Linked DNA regions of Homo sapiens. The protein of the gene in region 1 purifies or fractionates together with the protein of each later gene. This does not show direct contact. Each region holds a gene or a part of one and is shown in the gene's direction. Other genes may lie near its edges.

What was found.
Region 2: the proteins of RRP12 (region 1) and CEBPZ purify together in Homo sapiens (affinity purification with mass spectrometry, with the first as the bait; one large-scale study listed by BioGRID). This does not show direct contact.
Region 3: the proteins of RRP12 (region 1) and ZNF274 purify together in Homo sapiens (co-immunoprecipitation; one large-scale study listed by IntAct). This does not show direct contact.
Region 4: the proteins of RRP12 (region 1) and MAP3K14 purify together in Homo sapiens (tandem affinity purification; one large-scale study listed by IntAct). This does not show direct contact.

The regions. Positions count from the first base shown.
Region 1 is NC_000010.11:97,353,506-97,361,208, reverse strand, and holds the end of RRP12 (RRP12-like protein), read left to right. Parts: intron 1-590; coding exon 591-663; intron 664-2,198; coding exon 2,199-2,266; intron 2,267-2,589; coding exon 2,590-2,672; intron 2,673-4,012; coding exon 4,013-4,115; 3' UTR 4,116-4,508; downstream 4,509-7,703.
Region 2 is NC_000002.12:37,198,994-37,206,439, reverse strand, and holds the end of CEBPZ (CCAAT/enhancer-binding protein zeta), read left to right. Parts: exon of another isoform or gene 1-388; intron 389-1,696; exon of another isoform or gene 1,697-3,431; coding exon 3,432-3,490; exon of another isoform or gene 3,491-3,574; coding exon 3,575-3,656; exon of another isoform or gene 3,657-4,536; coding exon 4,537-4,676; 3' UTR 4,677-4,715; coding exon of another isoform or gene 4,716-4,798; 3' UTR 4,799-4,828; downstream 4,829-7,446. Other genes in the region: protein CEBPZOS, read right to left, coding at 4,716-4,798, 5,348-5,392, 6,621-6,735. UniProt on the Homo sapiens protein: Stimulates transcription from the HSP70 promoter.
Region 3 is NC_000019.10:58,208,402-58,216,104, forward strand, and holds the end of ZNF274 (neurotrophin receptor-interacting factor homolog), read left to right. Parts: intron 1-1,559; coding exon 1,560-1,672; exon of another isoform or gene 1,673-2,029; intron 2,030-3,158; coding exon 3,159-3,285; intron 3,286-3,759; coding exon 3,760-4,742; 3' UTR 4,743-5,161; downstream 5,162-7,703. UniProt on the Homo sapiens protein: Probable transcription repressor. Specifically binds to the 3'-end of zinc-finger coding genes and recruiting chromatin-modifying proteins such as SETDB1 and TRIM28/KAP1, leading to transcription repression.
Region 4 is NC_000017.11:45,287,393-45,295,095, reverse strand, and holds part of MAP3K14 (mitogen-activated protein kinase kinase kinase 14), read left to right. Parts: intron 1-4,330; 5' UTR 4,331-4,350; coding exon 4,351-4,606; intron 4,607-5,790; coding exon 5,791-5,860; intron 5,861-7,703.

The DNA.
Region 1 (7,703 bases):
TACTGTCCATGATCATACCTGCTGGGATGGTAGCATTGTTGAGGATCAGTGATGACTGGCTTGAGCAGGGGTCTCCCACCCGCCTGAGAGCCCGTGGAGCACAGGAACTAGATCTTGTGCCCTGTGTCCCCAGGGCCTGGCACTTAGTAGGGGATCAGTAAGTGAGTGATTAATAGGGAGAGTGGGGTGGGGTTTGTGTGAAGCAAAGAACTGGTAAAGCTATTCTCTCTGAAGAGGCCAGGGACCTCATTTTCCCCATTAGGAAGGCTGGGTAAGCTGATGTCAGAAGCCCTCTGGGCAATTGCAGGCCTGGGTGGGGCCCAGAGTGGAAAGGAAGAGCAGGAACGGCCGCCACCAGCCCGGCAGTCAGGACATGGCCAGAGCTTCTCTTCTGCACTGCCTGGCTTTGTGATCTTGGACAGTTCCTTGCCCTCTCTGGGCCTTAGTTTCCCCATCTGTAAGTGAGAGGTGGGGTGCTTAGCAGAGGGCCTCTCCTGCTTGATGCAGGGTACTCTGCTGTTACTGTTGGCATTCCCGAGGGTGGGCACATCCCCTGGTTCACTCACTACCCACCTATTCTCTCTCTATAGAAAAAGCACCAGAAGCTCAAGCACCAGAAAGAGGCTGAGGAGGAGGAGCTGGAGATACCCCCTCAGTACCAAGGTGAGGCTTCCACTCCTCTCTCCTGGGACACATGGATCCCTGTCACCTGCATTAGGGAGGGGAGTCACAGGAAGGGGTGGCAGGGCCATGAGGGTGCACAGCCTGGTTGCACTCACTTGGCACCAACAGAGGTTGGCTGATATGACACTCAAGATGGGCCTGGAGTCTAAGGGGCCCTGGGGGTGTGAGAGAGCCTATGGGTTAGGAGATCTGTGCATGGAACCACCAGCCTTCTGAGGAGCCCTGAGCCACAGCTCCTTCCCACCCGCCCAGGCCTCCCAAGAGGCTTGAGTCTGTCCCTTCTGCGAGCTGCTTGCCTCTCTTGGTCACCCTAAGAGCACCAACCGAGTCAGGCTGGGTTTAGAGAAGCCACTTGGCCGGTGCCAGGGCTGGGAACTGGGAAGGTTGGTATTGGGTCTGGCCAGAGGGTTCCCCTCTATTTCTATCTCTGGGCCCACCAGCTGTTGCCCTCCTAGAGCAGCTGCTAGAAGTGCCAAGGTGGCTTCACCTCTGCTTCCTTCCTCCCAGGGTAGCCTTGCAGGACCCCTGCCCCCAAGCCCTTGCAGCAGAGCCCTTGCTTTGCATCTGGAGGTCCAGGGGCTCCTGTGGGAAGCCTCTGATTCCAGTAGCTGGTGTGTCCTCAGCCCTAGAGCATCATAACGCAGCTGCACAACCTCATGGCTCTTCCGCCTGTGGCACCCATGAGCCAGGGCCAGCTCACCTACTGTGCCCTGGGATGGAGTGATGCTGAGGCAGGAGTACCTGCCAATTGATGAGGCAGAGACCTGGGGTCAGGGCTGCTTGCCCAACCTCTGCTTAGCTGTTTGACCTTGGCCTGGTTACACTGTCTGTCTCTGAGCTTCTAGTTTCTCATCTGCAAAAACATGAGGAATGGGGGTGGTTCGTGTTGGTCGTCTCAGAGAGTCCTCCTGAGCTGGCATGGTAGGATTCCATCCACAACTTGTCGTTGAATGTTGAAGTCCAGGCTGGAGAAGACAGCTGACCTTGGGCAAGGATCTTGATCTCTCTAAGCCACAGTGTTCACATCTGTTACAATGGGTTAAATAGCTACCTGCTATCTCAGTGTTTGTGTGAAACCCAAATGAGATAAGAAGGGAAAGCCTAAAATGGCTTCTCTTACAGATGAGGTTAAGAGGCTTGCCTGAGGTTGGAGCTGTAAGTGGCAGAGCTGGGAGTTGAACCTGGCTGGCTGGCTGGCTGAATTCTGTCTGACTTTGGAGAATATGGGTTATTTTTTGTTAGTGTGTTAGCGGAGAATATATGTGTTCCCAGAGGTCTCTGGTAAGCTGTAAGGCTTCTGGGTCAGTCTGAGGAGCCCAGTGATCTAACTGTCAAATCACCAGACAGTCCCTCCTCGAGGAAGGTCTTTGTCCTGGTTTGATAGGGGACAGAGCCAAGTTCCTGGCCTTCACTCATCTGCTCCCTTGCAGCTCTCTCAGAGAGGGTGCCCATTGCCTTTCTGGAGGGGGCTGCCCTGGCTTTGCCTGACTCATGGTCCTGTGTTCTCCCCGTAGCTGGAGGCTCTGGCATTCATCGCCCTGTGGCCAAGAAGGCTATGCCTGGGGCTGAATACAAGGCCAAGGTAAGTGCTGCATGTAGGGCATGGGGTCTCCTGGCACTGGACAGGTGCCAGGGAGGGGCAAGGAGGAGCTGTGCCCATCACTGTCCTGAGAGGCACCTTCCTGGAACTCAACTGAGGCCAGGAAAGAAGAAGGGGTTCAGATGCTAAGACCTTGTGGCATCTGAAATGGGGGACCTTATTGAATGGCCTTCCAAGGATACAGGAGCTCTTTGGCACCACCTAAGGCAGAGGATGAAGGGAGGTTATGGGGCCTGTCAAGTCTAGGGCAGGGACAGAAGGGGAACCCCACCCTCCTAGCTGACTCTGTTTCTCTGGGCAAGCAGAAAGCAAAAGGTGATGTGAAGAAGAAAGGCCGGCCGGATCCCTATGCCTACATCCCCCTCAACAGAAGCAAGCTCAACCGCAGGTATGACGCTGTGCCAGGCAGGCTGGGGGCTGGAGGATGGGTGGGGATGAGGGAGCAGAGTGCTCTAAAGAAGGGAAGGCCTTATTAAACTCTCAGCTCAATTTGAGTCTCTTCCAGCTTTTTTTTTTAACATGCACCTATATCATGTAGCTGGTACCTACCTGTATTACTGACTTGAACTGCTTCTTTATTTTTTTATTTTTTTGAGACAGAGTCTTGCTCTGTCGCCAGGCTGGAGTGCAGTGGTGCGATCTTGGCTCACTGCAATCTCTGCCTCCCAGGTTCAAGCTAGTCTTCTGCCTCAGCCTCCCGAGTAGCTAGGACTACAGGCGCGTGCCACCATGCCCAGCTAATTTTTGTATTTTTAGTAGAGATGGGGTTTCACCGCGTTGGCTGGGATGGTCTCGATCTCTTGACCTCATGATCTGCATGCCTCAGCCTCCCAAAGTGCTGGGATCACAAGCACGAGCCACCGTGCCCCGCCCTGAACTGCTTCTTTAAACATGATATTATGTCATACAGATGTTTTCTGGTATTTACATACTCTACATAGTCATCTTTTTTTTTTTTTTTTGAGACGGAGTCTCGCTGTGTCACCCATGCTGGAGTGAGTGCAGTGGCACGATCTCGGCTTACTGCAAGCTCTGCCTCCCGGGTTCACGCCATACTCCTGCCTCAGCCTCCGGAGTAGCTGGGACTACAGGCACCCGCCACCACACCCGGCTAATTTTTTTGTATTTTTAGTAGAGACGGGGTTTCACTGTGTTACCCAGGATGGTCTTGATCCCCTGACCTTGTGATCTGCCCACCTCGGCCTCCCAAAGTGCTGGGATTACAGGCATGAGCCACCACGCCCAGCCATAGTCATCATTTTTAATAGCTTTGTATAATTTGCTTTTCTAATCCCTTTATTGGTAGGAAATTAGAGTTGTTTCCGACTTTGGCCCTTAAATTGGGTTATGTGTAGGACTGCTTTGGAAACTAATGTTACTAGGGAAATGGTGTTGTAAAGTTCTAGCTTCTGCGGGTTGTAAGTTACCTTTCAATGGAGGGATGGGTGGGCAGAGGGAGCTTTGACCTTCTCTGGACATACATTAGAGGAAAAATGGAAGGGAGGCCTGTTTCCAGGGGGATAATTGTGCCAAAGTGGAATGTCCAGGTCAGGACATGAGCCGTGTGGAAGCTGGAACCACGTGAGGTCTGCCTAGTTCATGTGCTGGCCACCACCTGGAGGCCCCCTTCTCATCCCTGCTGGCGCTGGGGGTGAGCCATCATTTGGCAACAGGAGGGGGCCTCCTATTCTCAGCCAGATGTGACCCTTCCGTTCCTTGGCCCTGCAGGAAGAAGATGAAGCTGCAGGGACAGTTCAAAGGCCTGGTGAAGGCTGCCCGGCGAGGTTCCCAGGTGGGACACAAAAACCGCAGAAAGGATCGTCGACCCTGAGGCCCAGGGCCCCTGGGCTGCCCTGTGGTCCAGTCTGAGGCCCTTTCAGCCCCCAGGCTGCCTTGCCACCAGCTCCAGGTGCTCAAGATTCTGGCAGAGCCTGGACTCAGGATGACTTGGAACTAGGGCTTGGCTCTCAGAAGTCCTGGATTTTGGAAACTCCAAATGGAATCACCCTTCAGAGACATCCCTGGTGCCTGGAGATGGGAATGTGGCCTCAGTGCCTCTGAGTAGGTGCCATGAGGCACCTTTGCTTTCTGCCCAGAGTGGCCATGAGCACCAGAACAGATGATCTCCATTTCCGCCAGCTGCCTGTAGCCACGTGGCATCCTGCCTGTGGTCTGGGTGAGATTTACTGTGACCAGATGTAGAATAAATGTGTCTCATCCTGCATTTTTTTTCTAGAAACTGTTTCATAGTCTGCCCCCTCCAGGGGTAAGAACAGTGTGCAGTTGTTGGCAGCAGTGGCCTGACCTCTTCCTGTCTAACTCCTTACATCCAGTCCAGGGCATATCATAAGGCTTTGCCCATAGGACAGGCTTTGGAACTTGCCCGGGAGCACCCACCTGTGTCAGGAGGGGCAGCGAATGCCCCAGGGCTGGTGTCGGGAGCTGCAGTTCAGCACCAGGGACTGCCCCAGCTGTCCTGGGCACAAGTCTCTCCAGCATCTTTGTTCATTGATTCAACAAAGTATTTGCTGAGCCCCTCTAAGTGCCCAGCATAGCCTTGTTCATTCACCTCCGTGTCTTCCCACATTCTTTTTTTCCCAGACAAGGGGATCTGTTTGTGTAATGTGATTCACTGGGCCAGCTTTGTTGGTCTGGAGCAGAGAAGGGCATGGCACAGAAGTCCTGAGGTCACTGTCCTGTCAGCCCAGGTCCCCTCATGTGGATACAATCCCACAGGCAGCCAGAAGCAAAGAACCCCAGCACTGTTCCCACACCCCAGTATGAGTGTGCTTTGTGCCCTAGCACCTGACTGATACATTCTTCCCATCTCAGATCCTCCCAACGTGAGGCGAGCACATGCACACATTCCTCGTTTCCATTCTAGTTTAAGGCACTTGGCTCTGATAATGGTCCCAGGAGGCCCTGTGCACCTCCTGGCAGCCTGTCCCACCACACTCTTCCACTCATTATCTAAGGGGACCCAAGTCTTAATTGGATCTGGCGCTCCCCAAATTAGGGCATTTCCTCCCAATGATTTGGGGCTAGGAAAAGCTGAAAGGAACCACACTCGGCCCAGAGGTGGCACTGTTTACATGCCTTGTTCACAGAAATCTAGAATTGGAGAGCAAGCAAGAAAGGTGGTCAGGAGTGGCTAGGAGAGATTTGCAGAGGGGATCTAACCATACTCCCCGTTGTTACACTTCTGGACACAAGTTGGGCCGAAGTAAGCCAAGCCCAGTCCTTCCTGTTTCCTTTCTCAGGAAATGTGACCACGTGCACTGGGAAGCTTTGTGTAAAGTAGATAGGGGTATGAGCCAATTGCCCAGCATTGGTGTTTTGTTTTTTGTTTGTTTGTTTGTTTTCACAGAGTCTTGCCCTGTCACCCAGGCTGGAATGCAATGGCGTGATCTCAGCTTACTGCAACCTCTGCCTCCCAGGTTCACACAATTCACCTGCCTCAGCCGCCTGAGTAGCTGTGATTACAGGCACCCGCCACCACGCCCAGCTAATTTTTGTATTTTTAGTAGAGACAGGGTTTCACCATGTTGGCCAGGCTGGTCTCGAACTCCTGACCTTGTGATCCGCCCACCTTGGCCTCCCAAAGTTCTGGGATTACAGGCGTGAGCCACTGCGCCCAGCTTATTGGTGTTGTTTGTTTGTTTTTTAAAAAAAGGCCAGGCACGGCTCATACCTGCAATCCCAGCACTTTGGGAGGCCGAGGCGGGTGGATCACCTGACCAACATGGAGAAACCCCATCTCTACTAAAAATACAAAATTAGCCAGGCATGGTGGTGCATGCCTGTAATCCCAGCTACTCGGGAGGCTGAGGCAGGAGAATCACTTGAACCCGGGAGGCAGGGGTTGGGGTGAGCTGAGATCGCATCATTGCACTCCAGCCTGGGCAACAAGAGTGAAACGCCATCTCAAAAAAAAAAAAAAAAGAAAGCGTGAAGCCAACCTCCTTGTTATATATAGCACATTTTCCAAGGAACTTTGTTTTCTTTTAAAGATGGGAAAGGCAGGTGACCTAGAAAGGTTGGTGTTAGTGATGTGCTGAATGCCATATTCTTTTGGAAGTAGACTTCAAATGCAAGTGATCTTGATGCAGAGGCAAGAATTAATCTTCACCCTGAAACTTCAGGTGTATTTTGAAAGTCAGTGTTCTTGAGGCCGGGCGCAATCACTCACACCTGTAATCTAGCACTTTGGGAGGCCAAGGCAGGTGGCTCACCTGAGGTCAGGAGTTCAAGACCAGCCTGGCCAACATGGTGAAACCCTGTCTCTACTAAAAATACAAAATTAGCTGGGTGTGGAGGCACACACTAGTCCCAGCTACTCGGGAGGCTGAGGCAGGAGAATTGCTTGAACCCGGGAGGCGGAGGTTGCAGTGAGCTGAGAGCGCGCCTTTGCACTCCAGCCTGGGTGACAAGAGCGAAACTCTGTCTCAAAAAAAAAAAAACAAAGTCAGTGTTGTTTCAACAGTGTGGCGAAAGAGAGTCTTAGGAGTGTTCATCAACAAAAGATTCATCCAATTTTAGGGTGAATAGGAAAGTTGAGAGCTCTCACTCTCCAGATTTTCAATTTGTGCTTTTGGGAATGTCAATCTGAGGCTTGCTTTTCTGGGGTCCATCCTCCACTCATTCTCAGAAATGGAAAACAGGTCCTACCCTGCTTGACTACGAAAACCGCAACCCTGCAGTTGGCCAAGGGAGTGGTCAAGCTTTGGGGATTTGCAAAGGCGGTCTAGTCATGTCCACATTGTGACACTTCTGGCCATGGGTGAGTCAGGTTAAACTGACCTTGCCCCTTCACTATTTCCCTTCTCGTGATTGTGGCAGAAGGCTTGGTGGGGACTGTCCTGGCAGTTCATTCCTGCCAGTGGCCATCTTTAGAGCTAGTCCTACTTACAGCATGATCAGTCCCAAGAAGGGTGTTTTTTCTGTACTGTTTGCAACATGTAACAAAATTGCTTATGAAGTTCAGGTAGCCTGTTTTCAGTCCTCAGAGTCCTTTCCCCATTTTTTCTTTCTTGGTTGCTTATGTTTCCTCAAAGGGTAATTTTAAAAATTAAAATCGTATATATTTCACTACAAAAGTGATAAAGATTCCCAGAACATTTGGAAAAAACAAAAGTAAAAGTAGGGGCTAAAATCCTTCCACCAAATTCTGTTATTACTAGTGCATTTCATTCTTTTTTTTCTTAATATACGTAGGGCTATTTTTTTTTTAATTAAGGAAAAAATGTAAGGCCAGGCACAATGGCTCACACCTGTAATCCCAACACTTTGGGAGGCTGAGGCGAGAGTATCGTTTATGCCCAGGAGTTTGAGACTGGCCTGGGCAATATAGTGAGTCCTTGTCTCTACAAAAAATTAGCCAAGCGTGATGGAGTACACCTGTAGTCCCAGGTCCTCCGGA
Region 2 (7,446 bases), on another chromosome or scaffold:
GTCGCAGTGAGCCAAGATCACACCACTGCCTTCCCGCCTGGGCGACAGAGCAAGATTCCATCTCAAAAAAAGAAACAAAAAACAAAGATTTAGAACTCCTTTCAGCATTTCTTATAGTGCTGGCTTGGTAGTGGTGAATTCTCAGCATAGATATCTCTCCTTCATTTAGGAAGCTTAGTTTTGTTGGATACCTTTTAAGGAGACTAAACACGTTGCCACACGCTGTTCTGTCCATCCATGTGGGAGCTGCACGTTAGTCCTGTCCCCTTATCCGCCATTTTCCTCCTCAGCACAGCAGATCAACATGTTTGCCTCTTTGTTTTGTTCTCTCCAGGGCCCCAGCAGATTGGATGGTGCCCACTCACATTTGAATGCAGATCTTCCTTACCTAGTCCAGAGATTCACATGCTAATCTCTGCTCATTCATTTTTAAACCATTCAATTATAAAAGCCTTGCATTTTTCAGACACCTGTTATCTTTTTCTTTTCTCAACCATTATTTGCCATTTGACCCTTGCAATAATCCATGCTCCTTTATTATGATACGAACTCTTCTTTCTGCTAATTGTTTTTTAACATTTTTAAAAGTATTATCTTACAAGATTCTGCTTCACAGTGTAACACAAGGTGCTAATAAAAGAAAAAAGTGCTGTATCAGGTGACAGTCTTAAGATTTTTGATAAAAATGTAGAAAGCACTGTACATACTTTGCCTCCAGTGCCTCTCTGGCTTCTGCTTACTGCTAAATACTGATGACTAAAAATAGATCTGCAAAGTTAAATAATAATAATGTTTTAAAAAGTTTCATGCGCGTCTGTATGAAGAGACCACCAAACAGGCTTTGCATGAGCAACAAGGCTGCTTATTTCACCTGGGTGCAGGCGGGCTGAGTCCGAAAAGAGAGTCAGTGAAGGGAGATAGGGGTGGGGCCATTTTATAGGATTTGGGTAGAAAAAAGGAAAATTGCAGTCAAAGGGGGTTGTTCTCTGCCTGGCAGGAGTGGGGGTCACAAGGTGCTCAGTAGGGGAGCTTTTGAGCCAGGATGAGCCAGGAGAAGGAATTTCACAAGATAATGTCATCAGTTAAGGCAGGAACAGGCCATTTTCACTTCTTTTGTGGTGGAATGTCATCAGTTAAGGCAGGAACCGACCATCTGGATGTGTGCGTGCAGGTCACAGGGGATATGATGGCTTAGCTTGGGCTCAGAGGCCTGACAAAAAGTTTCATTTACATATTGGTAGTAGTCTTTCAGAGCCTCACGCCTACAAAATTTTATCAGCTCTTTCAAATACTGCTGTCAATTTCTTAGTCCTGTAATAACTATGATTTAACTGATACATATTTAAATTATAACACGTTATCTTCCAGATTTTGTCTTCCCTTGAGTATCTAAGATCATGTTTTAGTATTAGCATAAGATGAGATATAGGCAGTTTTTCTCAAAAGCATCCCACAGAAAAGTGTTGCTTTACTTCAAGTTCTACTGAGCCTTTTATTAAAAGATGCTGGTAAAAGGAATTTGAGGAGAAGAAAAAAATTTTTTAATGTTAAAAAAGATGCTCTGAGCTTGTTTCAAATAGTAAAGTACTGTTTCAGAAGACATTAGCCTGAAAGGATTTCAGATCTCAATTGATAATAGTTTTGGATGCAGATTAAAGAATACCCAACAGAATTGACTGAAACAAAAAGAGGCAAGGAATTTTAAACAGATTTATTAATTGATTCAGATTTATTAATTTACTAATTGATCACCCTACATTTACAGGTGTTAGAGTAGATATCCTTAAGAATAAACATACCTTATAGAAACTTTAATCAGCCTGGGCAACACAATGAGACCCCATCTCTACAAAAAATCAAAAATGGCTGGGCGCAGTGGCTCACGCCTGTAATCCCAGCACTTTGGGAGGCCAAGGCAGGTAGATCACAAGGTCAAGAGATCAAGACCATCCTGGCCAACATGATGAAACCCCATCTCTACTAAAAATACAAAAATTAGCTTGGCGTGGTGGCATGCACTTGTAGGCCCAGCTACTTGGGAGGCTGAGGCAGGAGAATCGCTTGAACCCAGAAGGCAGAGGTTGCAGTGAGCCGAGATCACGCCCCTGTACTCCAGCCTGGCGACAAAGCGAGACTCTGTCTCAAAAAAAAAAAAAAAAAAATCAAAAATTAGCCAGGCATGGTGTTACATACTTGAGGCTGAGGTTGGGGGTGGGGGCGGGATAAAAGAAACTTTAAGAAACCAGTACAGTACAGAAGTGCCTACTCGTTGAGGTCACAGATACATCACTACAGGATGAATAAAACCCAAAAAAAACTTCCTAATGCATGCAAATGTGTATTATACAGCTGTTAAGTAACATACATATCACCTTAATAAAAATCAAGATGAAATGTTTTAGAAACTATTTTATCAAAAGTGGCTCTGATACAAAGACTTGTACATGATTGTTCACAGCAGCACTATTAATGCCAAAAAGTAGACAAAACCTAAATGTCCATTAACTGATAAGCAAAATGTGGTATATCCATACAATGGAATATTATGTAGCCCACAACATGGCATGGAGTACTACAACATGGATGAGCCTCAAAAACGTTATGCTAAATGAAAAAAGTCAGATATAGGAAACCACATGTCATATGATCCCATTTATATGAAATAGCCAGAAAAGGCAAGTCATAGAAACAAGATAGATCGGAGATGGGTTGGAGGACTACAAATGGCACCAGGGATCTTTGAAGTTGATGGAAATGTTCTAAAATCAGACTGTGGTTGTGGTTGAACAAGTCTGTAAATTTACCAAAATGCGTTAATACACTTAAAACAGCTGAATGTTATGATCTGTATTTAGTAAAGCTCTTTTTAAAATATGGCTCTACTACTGCTAGAGACATTGATATCAAAGATGCAGAGTTTGAATAATTGTTTCAGGAAAAGTTTATATATTCAGTACTACAGATAAGTTTTTTTTTTAAAGGAGAACCTTTTTCGCTGTTATAAACAACTTCATTTATAGCATAATAAACATACTTTCAGTCAATTTCTTTACAATCTAAAGACCCCTGAACTAAATTTTATGTTGTGTCTTAAGTATTTCAAAACCCATCCATGTCAAACTGATAATTTTACTATTGCTTGATACTATGTTATTTCCCTTATGGGTAAAACTTCGATCAGTGGCCAAATCTGAAAAGCAAGAAGACACTCTTGTCATCTGAACAGTTCTATTAGGATGTTGTTAGCTTTTTGAAAATATTATATACTAACTCTTAAATTATATTTAAATGCCAGCTACCCAATGGTGCCAGAAGATTATTGCAATTGTTTTTACCCAAGTATAATTTTTAAAATAAAATCATGTTGCATTGCATTTTTCTAAAATCATTAGATTTATAATTGAATAATGTAGACTTACAATTTTTTTTAGGGCCAAGAAAAAAGAAAAGAAACTTAAATGATTCCAGCCTATTTGTATCTGCTGAAGAGGTAAGGCTAATGTACTGTTTTAACAAGCTAGCTATTCTACATTATTTTTAGTTTTCTAATAAATTTATCGTTTTTGTTTAAAAGTTTGGCCATCTATTGGATGAAAATATGGGATCCAAGTTTGATAACATTGGCATGAATGCCATGGCTAACAAAGATAATGCAAGTAAGTAACTTAAATTTTTTTATTGATGTTTTAAAAATAGCTTTGGCTTGGAACTTCAGAAGATAGGAAATTTTCGTTATTTTATTTATTCTTTTTTTTTTTTTTTTTTTTTTTTTTTTTTTTTTTTTTTTTTTTTTTTGAGACAGCGTCTCACTCCCTTGCCCAGGTTGGAATGCAGTGGCATGATCTTGGCTCACTGCAACCTCCATCTCCCATGTTCAAGTAATTCTCCTACCTTAGCCTCCCAAGTAGCTGGGATTACAGGCATGCACCACCACGCCCAGCTAATTTTTGTATTTTTAGTAGAAACAGGGTTTCACCATGTTGGCCAGGCTGGTCTCGAACTCCTGACCTCAAGTGACCCGCCTGCCTCGGCCTCCCAAAGTGCTGAGATTACTGGTGTGAGCCACCATGCCTGGCTGATAGGAATATTTTTGAAAGACCTTTTCATGGTACTTTACAACCTGAAAGGAATGGCTTTTTCTTCTCTCAGGAGAACATGTAAGATTAACAAGTATTTAGACTAAAGCAAAAAAAAAAAAAACCTTGCAGACTACAAAAATTACTTTTTTTTAGGGAAGTGGGCCGTTTTTACATATTGATTGTTACTGGTTTTTATTTCACCAGTAAAAGTGCTTGGGGAGAGAAAATCTTTAGAGCATTTGTTTCTTTTCCTTCCTTAGTCATTTCTTTTTGAAACATTTATCTTTGACAATAAATATGAGAAGAAAAGCAACAAACAAGCAGTGGGTTTGTATAGTGGGTGGGAAACCACAGGCCAAGGCAGGCTAGAAGTTCCTGTGACTCAGCAGCATGTTCTGTGGGACCACCAAGAGTCTACAGTGTGGTAGTACACTCATCTTTTCTTCTTCTCTCAAAGGTCTCAAACAGCTTAGATGGGAGGCTGAACGTGATGACTGGCTACACAACAGAGATGCAAAAAGTATCATCAAGAAAAAGAAACATTTTAAAAAGAAGAGGATTAAAACCACTCAAAAAACTAAAAAACAAAGGAAATGAGTTATTAATGTAAATTATAGATTAAAATTCTACTTACATCTAATTTTTGCTGTTCAACCATGTTTTTTGATCTAGCTCTCTGATTCCATACATTCCAGACTTCTCAGTGGATTTGTAATAAACTATAAATAAAAATAGCTCTCATTTATAAAGTCATGTGGAAGCATTGTTAAAATTAAATGTATTGAAAAAAACAACTTCTTTTTTCCATATTGCTACATAACAAAATGAAAAAGAGGACAGTAGGATTACAGACTTCACATATAAGTCCTGGCATCTCTGATCATTGTAATGAGCACTATTTCGTCTAACTACATGATGTCATCTTGTTCAGTCTTTATCTACTTGACAGAGAAAGAGACAGCTCCAAGAAGTTAGCAAACCTGAGATGAAACTGATCTTTTAAAACCAAAGGTTTAAACTGTGGTTTGATTCTATCACCTCATATATGAATGATTCCAGAGTTTACATTCTTAACCACTAGAAGAATTCAGAATCCAGCCCATTACCTAATTCTCCTCTCACTAGAATAGATGAGAATTTAGTCTCAGAAGAACTAAAATACATGTGAATAGTATTGTTAGAAATTCCTTGTAAAGAAATTACTACATAATTTATAGGTTACCTGAAGAAGTTGTTTTATACTTATTTTTACTTAAGGAAAAACATACCTTCCAAGATGAAGGGATATTTCTTGCTCATTGTTTGCCTGAAATCTGATGGAAAAAAGGATGTCTTGAAATTAGATATGAACAGAAATTCATTATATTAACACAGCCACAATTTAATGCTAGCTTTAGGGTCCATATGATGGGAACCATATAGATTAGAAATTTGTTTGAAGGTCTTTCTGGTAATCCAGGAACGATCTCCTTTTGTTTTTTTGAGTCAGGATCTCTCTCCCTGTTGCCCAGGCTGCAGTACAGTGGCACAGTCACAATCCACCACTGCCTAGACCCCCCTGGGCTGGGCTCAAGCGAGCCTCCTACGTCAGCCAAGGTCAAGTAGCTGGGATGGGGCTCAGGGGAGCCTCCTACCTCAACCTCCCGAGTAGCTGGGACTACAGGAGCACACCATCATGCCCAGCACTTTTTTTTTTTTTCTTAAGATACAGTGTCTTGTTATGTTTAGCCCAGACTGAGCTCAAGCAGTCCTTCCACCTTGGCCTCCCGAAGTGCTGGAATTACAAGTGCAAGCCATCACACCCAGCCATGACACTTTTTAAAACTGATCCCAAGCTTTAATTTGTTTTTAAATACTGTTGGGATGTTTTTTTAATACCCTTCCTTAGAGTTTAAAAGAAAAGGGATTTTTTGAGTATCCAGTAGCATCTTGGTACAGCGTTCCAACCAAGTATGCTGAGGAAGACTGTGGCAAGTTTCAAAGATGGCTATCATGCCAGGTCTATTCCCTGTTTTAGGGAAAAATCACTTCCTAATTTAAAAAGTTGAGAGCTCTAATATAAAATTTCCCCAAGAAAAATGTTAAAGCACTTTCGGCCATAGCATGTGAAAGTCTTAGTGCCCACTGTTGATGCCCAGGAAGAATACTATAGCCTGAGAAAACTGGTTACTCAGAAAACAGCAATACCAGTTACTTTCTTAGTCTACCAAACAATGAAGTATAATGGGCAGGCTAAGTTTCCTCCATCTGTGCTCCCAAACTAAGCCAGACCAAGGACACTTGCTATATCCTCCACAATAGTAAAATCCATGGAGGTATGAAATTTTTTCCTTAGCCCACAAACAACATTTTTAAGGGAGAAGTGAGAGTGATCTAGTCCACAATAATGAATACTTTGATTCCTGTTCTGCCCCTAAAAATGTCTAATATCTTGAATCTGAAGAACCAATTTCTCCAAACATGCCATTGCCATTTAACACATAAAATGGATTAGCAAAACTATACCCCTTTAGAAAGCATTAACTTCTGAATTATGATTACCTTGGCTTGTGTGCATCTTGCTAAACAAAAAATATGCTCCAAAAACGCCTACAAGTTCGGCTACCAAAACTCCTTTAAAGATCTTCTTTGCTAGTGGTTCCAAAGTACGGGCCATCCTAAATTTAACAACAGATATGTGTAAACCTGAATGAACATACTTAAACTACTATTATCATTTCTCTAATAACTCAAATTCATTCCCACAGTTTGAATGGCTTCTCTGTATGGGAGTAAGACCAATACTATGGTATACTTTTTTGGTTTAGACATCCTATCTACCTAGTTTTCAAACTCCATGCCTGAGGGGCATGATGAACCAAAGACAAAATTGGATAAAGCACAGGAAAGAGAGAAAATGCAAGAAAGCGTTGTAAAAAGAACAATTTACGGAACTAAAATTATTTAATTGTGTAGGAAAACAGAATGGGGAAGATAATTTTTTAGCTGCACTGGGAGTTAAGAAATAATCTAAATGGATACAATATATAAACAGCTCTTTGTAAAGTGCCGTACAAAAGTAAGATCTTTCTCAAGTGGTTCTACACTTTCTAAAGGGCTGGAGTTCTTCATTTATTAATACAACATACACTATTACATATACTATATATTATAGATAGTATAGATATCCTATATACTGATACATACTAATAATACAACATATACTAAACTATTAATACAACATATACTAAACTGTGCCATAGTTCAGGCATTTGGAGTGCAGTGGCACAATCTCAGCTCACTGGGCTCAAACAATCCTCCCACCTCAGCCTCCCGAGCAGCTGGGACCACTGGCATGCCTGGCTATTTTTTTGTATTTTTTGTATTT
Region 3 (7,703 bases), on another chromosome or scaffold:
CTCCTGGACCCTGTGAATAAGTTGCCTCACATGACAAAGGGGACTTTGCAGAAACAATTAAGGATCTTGAGAGGGAGAGATGCACTGGATTATTTGAGTGGATCTAACATAACCACAGGGGCCCTTAGGAGAGGGAGGCTGGAGGGTCAGAGGAGATGTAATGATAGGAGCAGCTGATAGAGGAAGAAGCCATAAGCCAAATGTTTGGGGCAGCCTCTAGAAGCTGGAAAAGGCAAGGAATGGATTCTCCCTTGGAGCCTCCAAAAGGAACATAGCCATGCTGACACCTTCATTTTAGCCCAGTGAGGCACAAACCAGACTTCTCATCTCCAGAACCATAAGGTAATACATTTGCATTAATCTGAGCCGCTGGCATTGTGGCAATTCACTATAACAGCAATAGGAAACTAGTTAGTTAGGTGCCAAGGAGACAGTTGTGGGGTTAATGAGGTGAAAGTCAGTGAATTCACCCTGTGTTTAACCTCAGGGGTGAATAAAATAAATTAGTGCCACAGAAGACAATGGGAAGAGGCTTTCCAGAGAACCCTGAGAATCTCACATTATGTGATCAGTGTGTTAGTTGGGACGCTTGAGTGTGACTGCTGCAAAGCCTTGCACAGAATGGCTCAAGGGAGAAGGAGAATTTATTGGAAAAGTTCCAGGGTGCTCGAGCATCAGGCAGGGCTGGACCCAGGAGCTCCAATAGTGTCCTCCAGACTTGTCCTGTCCCTCATTCTTACCTCTTCTGCCCTCCACTGGCTTCATCATGGGCAGGCTGTCTCCCTGCATGGGATTTCTCTTTCCCAAATGTTCCAACTAAGGCCTTGTTGGCTCCAATCATCTGGCTATAGGCTGTGTTCATCCCAGATCTAATCACTGTGGCCAAGAGAAAGGGATGGTCCAGTGTGCCAGCCTAAGTCATCTTGTGGCCCACCTTGATGGTGGGGGTAGATTAGCATTGTGGAAGCCTGTGGACCATTTGGGGTCATGTGAGGAAGGTTAGAATGAAGGAGCCGTGGTTACAGGGGCCCTTGGGCCAGGTGGAGCTGTTGTTTTCTTAGGTGGAGGAGACTTGGTGACGTTCACCTCAAGATGGCTGCATTTCATGGGTCCAGGGAAAGTCTCACCTTCCATGAGGTGGGAGGAGAGAGGGAAGAAGGAAGAGGTGCCCAAATAGGCAGGGTGCAGGGCTTGGAGGCCGGAAACAGGGGCTTTGACTCTAAGGAGGGGGCGTCAGTCAGCTGCCTCACAGGAGGGGCTGGGGCCCTCAGCAGCCCCCGGAAAGGGAAGGAGTGGGACCAGAGTCTCAGCAGTGAGGACACTGGTGCCCTGTGACCCTTGGAGGGTGAGCCATCCCGGGCCCATCCAGGTGTGGGCACTCGGGCACGTGCTGTGAGGGGAGCAGAGCTGGTGGGAAGGGAGGACAGGAGCAGAGGCTGTCATGGAGCCACAGTACGATGCAGGGGTGCGGTGGCCCCATGGGTTGCAGAGAGGCCACCCTTGCCCTGCCTAAGGGTCCCCACACCTGCTGACCTCCTCTGGCTGGTGTCTCCTCCCAGTACTTCCTGCAGGACAACCTGCCGAGGGCACCACCTGCTGCCTCGAGGTCACTGCCCAGCAGGAGGAGAAGCAGGAGGATGCAGCCATCTGCCCAGTGACAGTGCTCCCTGAGGTAAGCGGGGAGTATCACCCTGTTTTGGTCACAGCATCTCCTGTGAGGCAGGCCCACCCCTGAGGCATCCACTCTGCCCTGGGCTTTCCTAAGACCTCCCACAGGCTGGGACATTCTGAGATTCTGAGCTCTTAGGTCTGTGCTGAAGCAATCTGAGTATGAAGAGCAGCCCTGCCCTCCAGCCACTGTGGCATCACTGGAGACAACGCATGGTGACCCGGGAGCTGAGAAAGCAGGAGGCAAGAGGGAAGGGACTAAGTGTTTACAGAGACTTGAGAGGTGGAACTACCACAGGCAGGCACATCTGTATCCAGGTCAGAACAAGAGAGCCCTCAACCTTCAGAAATGCATACTTAGGTATTTATCTTTGGTATCTGGGATTTGCTTCAGAATAACCCAGAGCTGGGGTGTGGGTGAAAAAGATTGGTCCTGATGCGCTGACCACTGGGGTAGTGGTATGTATGTGTCATTGGTCAGACCTGTTTGCACTGCAAATGGCTTATACTGGCTCAAGCGTAGAAGTCAATTTATTGGCTCTCATGTATTCTCTGGTAGGCTTCAGGCAAGGCTGCATCCAGGTGCTCCCAGGTGATGGGAAGAATCTCTGGCCAACCTGTTTCATGGCTCTGCTTTCTCCCCTTTCTTCTTCTTTTTTTTTGAGATGGAGTTTCACTCTTGTTGCCCAGGCTGGAGTGCAATGGCGCGATCTCAGCTCACTGCAACCTCTGCCTCCCAGGTTCAAGTGATTCTCCTGTCTCAGCCTCCTGAGTAGCTGGGATTACAGACAGCTGCCACTACACCCGGCTAATTTTTGGTATTTTTAATAGAGACGGGGTTTCACCATGTTGGCCAGGCTGGTCTCGAACTCCTGACCTCAGGTGATCCACCCGCCTTGGCCTCCCAATGTGCTGGGATTATAGGTGTGAGCCACTGCGCGTGGCCACTCCCCTTTCTTCTTAGGCAGATTCTGCCCCATGTAAGCAAAATGCCTCAGATCCTGGCAAAGCAGCGTTGGGGGTACCTCTTCTTCCCAAAGTCCTGGTCAGTTCCCCAGAAAGGACCAGTCATGGCTGTGCCAGGGTGACTGCCCTCCCCCAGGTCAGCCCTGTCGACAAAGGCAGGGGCTTGGTTGTCATTTCCACCAAGTGGGAAGACAGTATTAATAGATGGAGAACCCTCTGCAGTGGGAAGATTTCAGCAATGGGCAAGCTGGATAGAGCCGTGGTTAGGATGGAGTTGTTTGCTTGTTGCACTTGGAGCTCTTTATGAAGCAAGGGCTCTGCCTCCCAGCCTGAGACCCAGACCCTGGTTTGGACCCAGTAGAACTCTTGTGGGCCCTGGGTTGGTGTCTCTGAGCAAATCCCCAAAGCAGGAGAGTCCCTAGCACCGTGAGCTCTGTCAGAACCTCCCAGCTGGCCTTTCTTCTGCCCTCATTGACAACCCTCTGACCCTCTTGCTGAGCATAGACACATATGTGATGTTACAGGAGCCAGTGACCTTCCAGGATGTGGCTGTGGACTTCAGCCGGGAGGAGTGGGGGCTGCTGGGCCCGACACAGAGGACCGAGTACCGCGATGTGATGCTGGAGACCTTTGGGCACCTGGTCTCTGTGGGTAAGGCTGTGCCCCCTCTTCACCCACCTCAGGGCTGGTAGGCCACAGGAGCCCCAAGTCAGGGGTGTTCACCTTCTCTAGACTCCACACTGGGCATTCCCTCAAGGGGCCCTTGCTGCATCCAGGGCCTGTAAGTGGAACTGTAGACCTAGAGGGGTGAGGTCACTGGGTGGCCAGAAGCAGCCTTAGGTCCGGTGAAGGAGTGATTTGCTATCTATCTCCTGAGGGAGTATGAGAGAACAGGAACTCGAAGAGCTCGGAGGACACTCCCTGCCCTTCCTGTCCCTTGTTCACCAAGGTCAGTGCTCCCCTCCCTGCCGCTTCATTGCTTTTCAGTCTCTCTCCAGGTTGCATGACTCTATTTGGGAGAAAAAAAAAATCCTGACTTTTGAACTTAATTATGCATTTCATGCTCTCAGACCCATCCCAGCACATCTCTCTATGGGATCCACATCTTTTGTTTATTTTTTTCAGGGTGGGAGACTACACTGGAAAATAAAGAGTTAGCTCCAAATTCTGACATTCCTGAGGAAGAACCAGCCCCCAGCCTGAAAGTACAAGAATCCTCAAGGGATTGTGCCTTGTCCTCTACATTAGAAGATACCTTGCAGGGTGGGGTCCAGGAAGTCCAAGACACAGTGTTGAAGCAGATGGAGTCTGCTCAGGAAAAAGACCTTCCTCAGAAGAAGCACTTTGACAACCGTGAGTCCCAGGCAAACAGTGGTGCTCTTGACACAAACCAAGTTTCGCTCCAGAAAATTGACAACCCTGAGTCCCAGGCAAACAGTGGCGCTCTTGACACAAACCAAGTTTTGCTCCACAAAATTCCTCCTAGAAAACGATTGCGCAAACGTGACTCACAAGTTAAAAGTATGAAACATAATTCACGTGTAAAAATTCATCAGAAGAGCTGTGAAAGGCAAAAGGCCAAGGAAGGCAATGGTTGTAGGAAAACCTTCAGTCGGAGTACTAAACAGATTACGTTTATAAGAATTCACAAGGGGAGCCAAGTTTGCCGATGCAGTGAATGTGGTAAAATATTCCGGAACCCAAGATACTTTTCTGTGCATAAGAAAATCCATACCGGAGAGAGGCCCTATGTGTGTCAAGACTGTGGGAAAGGATTTGTTCAGAGCTCTTCCCTCACACAGCATCAGAGAGTTCATTCTGGAGAGAGACCATTTGAATGTCAGGAGTGTGGGAGGACCTTCAATGATCGCTCAGCCATCTCCCAGCACCTGAGGACTCACACTGGCGCTAAGCCCTACAAGTGTCAGGACTGTGGAAAAGCCTTCCGCCAGAGCTCCCACCTCATCAGACATCAGAGGACTCACACCGGGGAGCGCCCATATGCATGCAACAAATGTGGAAAGGCCTTCACCCAGAGCTCACACCTTATTGGGCACCAGAGAACCCACAATAGGACAAAGCGAAAGAAGAAACAGCCTACCTCATAGCTCTCAAGCCAGTTGAAGAAACCTTGCCTTTTCAGCTTGACCCTGCAATATAACATGCACAGGCCTGCTTGTGAATCAGGACTGAATGTGAAAGGGAAGTATTGAGTGAGGACATTCCCAAAACCAAAGGACAACTGAGGAGACTGCCCAGCACATAATGAATAAATAAGAAAATGAGTGAGGAGTTATTAACATCATTTGGAAAAAAGATTTCCCATTCACTTGATATTGTTTGTTCACTCATTTAGTCATTAAAAGTGAGATTAATAAAATCTGAAAATGTTATATAATAACTTTAAAAAGCCAGGTAATTAATAATCTGCACTGATATTACATCCACAGTACCACAGTATTTATGTGTATGAATTAAGGATTAAAAGATAATGTGGATAAATAAACTATTGATCTATGTCTGTGTAGAACCTGTGTATTTCCTGCCTGCTTAAATATCTCTATAGTAATGATTAATATTTAAGCAACATTAAAACACAAGGAAGGAGATCATCAGATAGTTCTAGAAGATTCTGTGCAAGGCTGCAGCACCTTGGGCACAAGATACTATGTGAGTTGGGATGACTGAATCTTTCTGCTCCTTAGGGGGTTGTCATGATATGGTTAGGTGGAGGTAAGGAAAATTTAAACCCAAAGGGCTGGAAACCCCAGGCAAGTGTGGGGCTTCCTGGGAATATTCATGTTTCTTTTGTTATTTTTCGCACAGAATCTCATCCTGTCACCCAGGTTTGAGTGCAGAGGTAGAATCATAGCTTACTGTAGCCTCGAACACCTGGGCTCAAAGGATCACCTGGGCTCAAAGATCCTCCTGGCTCAGTCTTTCAAGTAGCTGGGACTATAGGCATGCACCACCATGCCTAGCTTCATTTGGTTTGTGTTTCCATTTTTCCTGAGAGACTATCACAAGGAAGGCAACTGCTCTGGCCAGGAGCCCATCACTAAGTTAAGCAAAAAGACACTGGCAATACTAGAGCATGTACTTGCCCACAGTTCACATTCTTTCTCCAGGTCACATAGCCCACAGTATATGACCCGCTCCATTCCTTGTTCTAGGCTCCACCTTTGCTCTTGAGTTCCATGTAACATTTAACATAAAACTCTGGATCAAAAATACTTAGGTTCAAGACACTGGTTGAGTGCTACTCTGCATAGCCTCTTTAGAACCCTTGGGTCTTGCCAACAAGGGTGAGGTGCAGTCGTGCCATCTAGGATGAGAGTACCTCCTTTCTCTGCAGAAGTGAAAAACCCTTGGAGACAGGACCAGAGTAGATACCTTGAGCCCATGTGCCTGGAGAATGATGGTGGTACACCAGCAGCCCTATTGCCATTCACACATTGGGCACAGGGCTTGTGGTTGCTATGTTGCTTCTAGTCATTTCAGCACTTTAATATGGCACATGTTAGCTTCTTTGAGAACATACACAGTTGAAGAACTTGCCCAGGGACGTTAGTTGGTAAAAACAGCCTCCTCAGCTGTTCAGAACTCTACAATATCACCTCTCAAGAATGAACCAAAGAATGGGACCCTTGAGATTAGAACCTGGTAAACTAAAAATTCCCAGATTCCAAATCCTAGACTGAGGGGTGAGTCCAAAGTTTTAGTGATGGCTTCAGGAACTGAGATGATGGTTTGAGCTGGGTCTGGGAAAATAAGGGACCCAGGAATAGGAAAGGGGGAGAACATACTAGGGTATGGGAGAGCTGATTGGAACTACAAAGTACAAGGCCAGTGGGTCCATTCCAAGGTATGGAATGGCTCATCTCATGGCTGGCACCTGGGCTTGAGGTGGCTCTAAGGCTGAGTTCAGTTGTGTTAGGTTCTCTCATCCAAAGAGCCAGGGTTCCAACAGTATTAGGCAGAAACAGCATGGCTTTTTCTGACCCAGCCTAGGTCACATGGTGTCACCCCAGGACAGTCTATCCTTTACAAGCCAGTCACTAAGGCCAGCCGGATTCAGTGGGAAGGGGGTTAAACTCCATCTCTTGAAGGGAGAGTACCAAGGTTAAGAAAGGCAGGAGAGTGTGGTGGCCAACTCTGGTTAAAAAGGTCTACAAGTATGCCAGCATTTACCTTTAAATACTGTGTATCCCCACCTGTGCTTGCAAGACAGGAAGAGGAAGGCAGGGAGAGAGGCTGCACATGTGGGAGCTGACCCACTAGACACAATTATTAGATGTAGTTTAAATCCTGGCTCTGCTCCTCACTGGGTCTGTGATTGTCAGAAAGAAGATTAATGCCTGGAGGGTCCACGTTCCATATATCCAGTACACCAGTGAAAAGGTACATGACGCTGGGCACAGTGGCTCACGCCTGTAATCCCAGAACTCTGGGAGGATCATCTGAGGCCAGGAGTTAGAGATCAGCCTGGGGAACATGGCAAGATCCTGTCTGGAAAAAAAAAAAAAAAAAAAGGCCAGGTGTGGTGATGCACCTGTAGTCCCAGCTACTCAGGAGGCTGAGGTAGGAGGAATGCTCGAGCCTAAGAGTTTGAGGCTGCAGTGAGCTATGATAGCACCTCTGCACTCCAGCCTGTGTGGGAGTGAGACCTTGTCTCAAAAATAAATTTAAAAATTGTAAAAAGAGGTTACAAAGATGTTAGCTTCTTTGAGAACACATGCAGTTGAGGAACTTGCCCAGGGATGTTGGTAAAAACAGCCTCTTCAGCCATTCAGAACTCTACAATATCACCTCTCAAGAATGAACCAAAGAGTGGGACCAATTAATTCCAGCACATCCACTTATTTGTTCAACAAGAGTGTCTGTATCATTTACCAAGAAGGATTAAAAAGTAATTTTGTTCTCTTTGTTCCTTTGTGGCTGATTTTTAATGCAGAGACTATGTATCCTGGATCTAGCCAGTTGAGCAAACTCTGATTAATTTTAATAGGTTTTACTAAAATCTGGATTTCCATACTTTTAATTTTATGTTAATCTTTGCATAGTTTTCT
Region 4 (7,703 bases), on another chromosome or scaffold:
TTTAAAACATTGTTTTTGTATCTTCCAGTGAATCAAAAATTTGTTTACTGTAAACCCCATTCCTGCCCCAGAATCCTAGGAACAGAAATTTTACTGTCAGAGAAAACACCGCTCTCATCACCTCAGAACAGCACTGTCCAATAGAACTTTCTGCAATGCTGGACATGTTCTCTGTCTGCACTGTTGAGTATGGTAGCTAGTGTAACAAGGAAATGATTTTAAAATTTTACCTCATTTTAATTAAATGTAAATAGCCACATGTTGCTAGTGGCTACCATTTTGGACAGTGTCGCCTTGAGTACAGAGCAGGGGTCAGGTGGCAGTCTCTGGCCCTTTGGCATCAGAATCATCCAGAGAACTTGTCAAAAGTACAGATTCTGGGCCTAATGCCCAGTGACTGGTTCAGCAGGCCTAGGAGGAATGCATTTAAAGAACTTATCTGGTTATTCTAATCTGTGGTCAGATTGGAAACTGCTGCATTGGAGAGCTTTTCCTCGGAGTGGAAGAATAGAGCCAGAATCAGGCATTTAGCCCGGCCCTGATTTTCTAGGGAGACTAGAGGAACCTTCTGGGGAATGGCAGATCCTTGGAGAATCTGTTGAAAGCTATGGACCAAGTCTTCCCTGGAAAAATGCAAATTACATTTTTCTCCCTGAATCCATCCTTGAACCTAGATTAAGAACTCCTCATACAGCTATGCCCAGAGGTTGATCTGGTACTGTCCAGATCATTCCTATCCCCCAGGCTTCTCCAGGAGGTCACTGAGGCATCACAGAAGAAAGAACCAACAGTGTCTGTGCATCAGGCCTCAAAGAATATGGAGTGAATTCTGCTCCTTTCCTTTCCTCTTCTGATTTCTTGGGCTTATGGGTGAGCCATGTGGGTTTGGCTGTTGCCACTGCTCGTGTCCTCAACTCTTATGCAGAGAGTAGAGGGCCCAATGCCTTTGGGGCGTGAATAAGCTGAGGAGAGTGTCTAGGCTGAGGAATGAATCAGGAGTTTGACTTGCCTTCAAAGGCAGAGACATAACTGGCTCCCACTTCGTCCTCCCCACACGCTGCAGGAGGGAGAAGGGGCAAAGTGTTAGGGCCATGAGCTGGGGTGACAGCCAGAGACCAAAGTCCAGGGCTGGGAAGGCCCCCTGGCCAGTAGTCCTGGACTTAGTACAGAACCATGATTTTTGTAGACCAGAGTCCAGATAGAATTAGGAAAGGAGGGAGGGAGCAAGTGCATCCGTATGTGTGTGTGTCTGTGTGTGCATGTGTGTGTGTGCATGTGTGTCTGTGTGGGAGGTGGTGTTTGGGGAGAGCCACTGTCAGGCCAAAGTGTCCCAAGAATAGCCTCTTGAACTTGGAGGCTGTCGGTGAGGGTCTGAGTCATGGTGATGTGGCACAGAAAAGCCAGCCACAGGAGGAGCTTTACAGCTCCCAGGCCGTGATTTGTGCCCCTGAGAGGTGAGGGTCAGCCTGTTTTCCCCATGTCCTTCACAAGTTCAGCTGCCATCTGCTGGGTCAGCTTCTCAACAGCCTCCTTGTTACTGTCTGCCTGCCAGGCTGTTGGATGAGTCATCGGGGAACTGCAAAGGAGTCTCTGAGCGTGGCTGCCTCAGCCTCAGCTTCCACTTCTCTGGGAAGAGGGGAGCCTGGTGTGCTCACAGAGGGGCGCTGGACAGCTGCCTACCTAACACCAATATGAAAGGACAACTCTGGGACTCGGGATGCCCTGCACCCCCTCTGGAGGAGTTCTAGCTCAGGATGACCTATCCAGAAGCCTCCGTTGGGCCATGCCAGGCGGAGACAGGCTATCAGAGCCCCCACACAGCCAGATCTCTAATAGCCACGTGCCCCTCAGAGCAGCAACTGCACCACCTGGCCTCATTTTTCTCATTCATCAGGCAGGACTCTCTCTTCCTCCTCAGCATTCGGGATCATCCTGTCTCCAAAGGTTATGGAAAAGCAATCTTTGTCCTTTGAGTCCCTCGTTCAGCCAGCGTCAGTTGCGTGGTCTGTGGCCCCTGTGCTATACACTGGGGAGGCACTGTGTGCAGGGCCCCACCTCTTCCCTCAGGAGCCTGTTGACCAGGGAGGACCTTAGTGTGCCCTCCTGCATTTGCCTGTAACCCAGGAGCTTGGGGAGTGGGCATCATAGCCTAAAGAACCTAGGGTCTGGATCCTGGCCATGTCCTGTCACACGTGGGTTGGGTGACCTTGGGCAAGTCTCCACTGAATTAGGCCTCAGCTTCTTCAAATAGAAATGAGGAGGTCACGCTCACATCGAGCTCCCTGTGAGCATTCCCTACTGCTGTTAGGTTTGGAGACTTTTTGGTCTGTTCTTAAGATCTCATTTCCCCTGGTAAAGAGGCTGAGAACAGTGGGATCGGCTCTGGGCTTAGGTCAGTTTCTTTTTTGGAGGTAGAGTGGGGTGGGGAGGTGTGAGGTGGGATGAAAGTACAGTTACAAGAAGCATAGCCAGCCTTGAAGGGCTTTTGCCTAATTGGATGTCAGAACACCCCTTAGACTTTTTTTTTCTTTTAGAGACAGGGTCTTATTCTGTCACTCAGGCTGGAGAATGCAATGGTGCAATCTCAGCTCACTGCAGCCTCAACCTCCTGGGCTCAAGCATTCCTCCCACCGCAGCCTCTAGAGTAGCTGGGACTACAGGCCAGCTACCCCAGCTAATTTTTTGTATTTTTTTGTAGAGACAGGGTTCCACCATGTTGCCCAGGCTGATCTTGAACTCCTGGGCTCAAGTAATCCTTCTGCCTCAGCCTCCCAAAGTGGTGGGATTACAGGCATGGGCCACCATGTCCGGCCCCCTCAGACTTCTTAAGATCCTCAGGTAACAGTGAGGCCACCCATTCAGCCTCCTCAGCATCTGGCGTTTGGTACCAAATCCAGGCATCCTTGCAGGAAGCTGGAGCTGCTCCAAGTTCAGAGCTAGGAGACCCTTAAAGACAGAGATGCAAGGAACTAATCAATAGTGAACAACAAACCCCACCACACCCGCCAGCCAAGCTGGCAGAGCCTTTCATAGCCATCGAGGTGGGAAGACCAGTGAGGCAGATTCAGAAGGAGGAATGCTTCAACCTAGTACCTCAGCTTCCCACCATCTCATTCAGTCCTCAGGCCTCACAGGGCAAAAGGCCAGAGGCCTTAGAGTTCAGCTTCAGATGGTGTACCTGTCTGCCCCAGAAGCAGAGAAGTGATCCAGGGTTCACAGAGTTATAGCAAGGAAGATGATTTCTGCTGGTAGCAGCTTTAAGACAAACCTACCATCAGAGAGCAGTTATTAAAAATCTGTCTGCATTTGGGACCTTCTCAGGCTGTTTCTAAAGCAAGTCATGCCTGAGAGGGGCCCTGCCCTTTAAAAACTCCCAGCCTTTAAAAAGGTTTCCAAATGGTAACAGTCTCAAATCAGTGCTCTTCTCTTTTTTGCCAATTCCAGTCTGCAGGCTGTTTGCACAGATTGTTGGCAACTCTGGGTTGCTCTTCTTTGCAGCTTCCTAGGGCTGGGCAAGACAGAACCCAGAGAGACGTGAATTCTTATGCTTTATTCTTTATTTCTAGAGGTATAGGTTCGTGTTAGGGCCTTGAATATAAATTCTACTCCTGATGTTGCCTGAATGAAAAATGATACCTAGAAGTTTTCAGCCAATGAGTTTGGACATTAGAGGAGGAAGCATGTTAGTTCCTTCTGGAGAGCCACAAACAGACGCATTGGGCAAGGAACCACGTGCTGAGCACCATTTGCATGCTGAGTTTTAGACTTTGTAGGACACACACACACACACACACACACAGATATCTACCTCCTACTAGGGAACAGAATAGAACCTTGCTTCTCTCCACTTGGAGAAAAGTCGCTGTGGATGGTGTGTGCCAACAGGTCCTCTCCAAAGGCTTATGTGGGGTCAGTGAGGCCATGGTTTTGGAGTCTGGGATTCACCACCCTGTCCTGGGGAAACAAAGTTTGCCATAAAACAACAGAAAAAGATCGAGCCATCATAAAGGCAAGAAAGAGCCAACCCAGACATTTGTGCCACAGCTCTCCTAGAGGGAGTGGGCTGGCATCCTTGCTGGACACAGTGAAGGAGGCTGTTTATGTTGTGGTACTGGGAGGACCGGGGGACTGTGCCGTGTGGAACGTGTAGCTGTTGAGAGGTGGACTCTGTTACCATTGAGGATGTTTGGAGGATGAGTATGTGTGGCAGAGGCACACATAAACAGGCAGAGACCCTTTGCCCCTGCCTTTCTCCCCCAACCCAAGGCTGACCTGTGTTCTCCCAGGTCTGGGATTCTAAGTGACCTGCTCTGTGTTTGGTCTCTCTCAGGATGAGCACAAGCCTGGGAGATGGCAGTGATGGAAATGGCCTGCCCAGGTGCCCCTGGCTCAGCAGTGGGGCAGCAGAAGGAACTCCCCAAAGCCAAGGAGAAGACGCCGCCACTGGGGAAGAAACAGAGCTCCGTCTACAAGCTTGAGGCCGTGGAGAAGAGCCCTGTGTTCTGCGGAAAGTGGGAGATCCTGAATGACGTGATTACCAAGGGCACAGCCAAGGAAGGCTCCGAGGCAGGGCCAGCTGCCATCTCTATCATCGCCCAGGCTGAGTGTAGGGGCCTAGGGTTGTTGTGGGCACGGGGCAGGTGGGTGGGCCTGCAGGTGGGTAGCTGGGCCCAGGGGTTCCCTATGGAGGAGAGAGGTCTGTGTCACTGCTAGATAAGATTCTCATGAGACACAACCAGAGGTCTGTGCCGAGAATCATGGAAAGTGGGGTTGTAAAAGTGCACAGATGGTGGATGTGGCAAGGGGAGACTGTGCCCATCGTGACTGGAGCAGGGGAAGAGAGGTAACAGACGAGCACTCGGGACTCTGCAGAATCATCAAGCAGGCCATCAACCTTCTGCTGTGACCTTGAGCAGCCCCAGTGTCTGGAGAGGCTCCAGACAGGAAAGGCCAGGTCTCCTGGAAAGCCCCACTGGGGCCTGTAGGGCCTTCACCATCTTCCACCTAGAGGTGGCCCCACCCCCAGGAATGAGCACCGTGCTCTTGAGCCTGCTGGGCCAGTCCTGGGGCGGCAGGCTGCTGCAGGGTGAGACCTAGTCTGGTCCTTTCTTCTTCTACTCATGATACCTTATGATGACTAGTAATGGTGGCTTCCCTTGGAGACAGAAACTCCCACGAGGCCTGGGTAGGGCCGGGAGTCCTCTCTCTCCAACGCCTTCCCTCAACCCGGGAGGCTTCTTGGGGTGGAACCTGGAGAGCTGGACAGCCATGCTGTCATTTCTCCACACGCATACATCCTGCCCTCGTCTCCCACTTCCTCCTGGTTGGTTTTTGAGGAGAGATGAGAGAATAAAAACTAAAATACAGAGAGTGACATAATAATTGTTTTAAAAAAATACACATATATCCACACTTATATGTACACACATATATAAATACCTAATAGCTGTTTTTCCTATGAGCCAGGCACTGTGTTGAGCATTTTCTGTAGATCATCTCACTTCAGCTTCATAGGAAGTGAGGCGGGCGCCCTGTGATCCCCATAATATAGGCTTGGCTATTTCAGAGCAGGTGGCTGAGGCCGTGGTCTGCTCTTGACCAGTAAGCTGAGAAGCTGGGGAGAGACAGTGCGGGAAGGAGGCATTGGTGGGGAGGTGACTGCCAGACAGGGGTTGTCTGGAAAGGAGGGGAAGGAGAGGCGCCAGAGGGGATCTCTGTAAAATGTCTCTCCCCTAAGTGCTAAATTCCTATTTTTTCTCCTCTCTGCTAATCCAACTCCTTTTGCTTTAGGTGAGAATAGCCAAGAGTTCAGCCCCACCTTTTCAGAACGCATTTTCATCGCTGGGTCCAAACAGTACAGGTAAGCAGGGGAGACAAGCCTGAGTGGGAAGGTGGGGACTGGACCCAGCGCCCTCGTCCCCAGCACTTGCCTGGGCCGCTCCTGCTGACCCCGGGCTCCCTCCCTCAGCACCTGTGGTTCAGCTCCTGGAACTCACCCAGGCTTTCCTGGCTGAGCCGCTCTCTCAGCCAAATAAGCTTTTCAAAGGCTTTTCACAGCTTGTGGCTGACTGCCTCTGGGCCACATCAACTTGACATTTTATTTTTATTCTCCTCAGAGTCCTTAATGCACCCCCTCGTTTCCCATCAACAGGGAGGGTGCTGGGAACAGAAGCTGCTTCCCACTCTTGCGTGACCGTGAGCGCAGGCCGGGTTGGTGGGGGGGGCCTTCCACTGTCCTCTATGGGAGAAACCTGCTGGTGCCTTTTCTCCTGGGAGATGCACCGAGTAGGGATGCGGGCGGTAGAAAAGGAGGGGACAGATAGACTTGGTGGCCCGGTAGAAAGGAAGCCAGGGTGGGGCTGAGTCTGTTCCCAGGCTCTGCATTCCCCCACAGATGATTTTTTGAAACAAGAGTTCAAGTGCTGGGCACAATGGCTCTCACCTATAATCCCAGCACTTTCTGAGGCCGAGGCAGGTGGATCACGAGGTCAGGAGATCGAGACCATCCTGGCCAACATGGTGAAACCCCGTCTCTGCTAAAAATACAAAAATTCCCTGGGCATGGTAGCGCATGCCTGTAACCTCAGCTACTCAGGAGGCTGAGGCAGGAGAATCGCTTGAATCCAGGAGTCGAAGGTTGCAGTGAGCCGAGATTGTGCCACTGCACTCCAGCCTGGTGACAGAGTAAGATTCTGTCTCAAAAAAAAAAAAAAAAACAAGAGTTCAAGCTAGAAACAGCTCCTTCCCCTATCACCAGGCAGGTTTTGTATCATTGGAGTTTGGAACCTGCTAGTGATAAGATTGTGGGGAGGGCAGCTGGCTGCCTTGGAACCAAGAAATGCTCAGTTTGGTGGGATTCCTTCTGCTGTCCTGGGTGCCTTTTGGCCCAGGGTAGGAGCCTCTGATAGACACACTTCTTTCAGCTGTCCAAGAGAAGCCTGTAGGCCTCCAGTGGTCCCCAGGACTGCCATGAGTCTGCCTTCTCCATGGGGGCAGAAGATGAGGCCAAGGGAGGGTGGCTGAGGCCATGATCTGCTCCACAGCTGTTCTGCAGCAACCCATCTGTTGCCGGGTCCTTTAATACTTGGCAGGGATCCCAGTCCAGTTAGAGCCATGGCAGTGATGAGCCCCGAGGCCAGCAGAGAAGGGCAGGCTCCCCAGTACCAGGCAGCAGCCCAGGCTGTTCACCTTCAACAGCAGCCAGGGACCCCCAGGAACTGTGAGAATGGAGGTGACCAGCCTTACCTGTTCCTCCATCCGGAGGCAACAGAAACAAGCTCTGCTCAGTCAGAGCTGAGAGGCCTGCCATGAGCGTGGCCCCCTCCTAGGAACTCTCCAGGGGCAGCTCACCTTGGAGAGCAGTGAGCGAACCGTGTCTGCTCCCCTGACTCTCCCCAAGAAGTGCTGAGTCTGTACCCCATCACCATAGTAACAAGCACAGCTTCTCGGCAGCTTGCCTTGGGGCCAGACACTGAGCTGGGCTTTTTAAATGAACTAAATTATTGAAACTTCATTTCCACCCTGTATGGCAGAAAATACCAAACCCATTTTATAAGTGAGATAAGTGAGAAAACAGGTTCCTTGGGATTTAGAAACCTTGCCGCATTCACACAAGGAATGGCAACCTGGGATTTGACCTTGGATCTGCAGGAGTCCAGATACAAGTGTCTGGACCAGTCCATCTTCCTGCTTCCTCGTGCTCA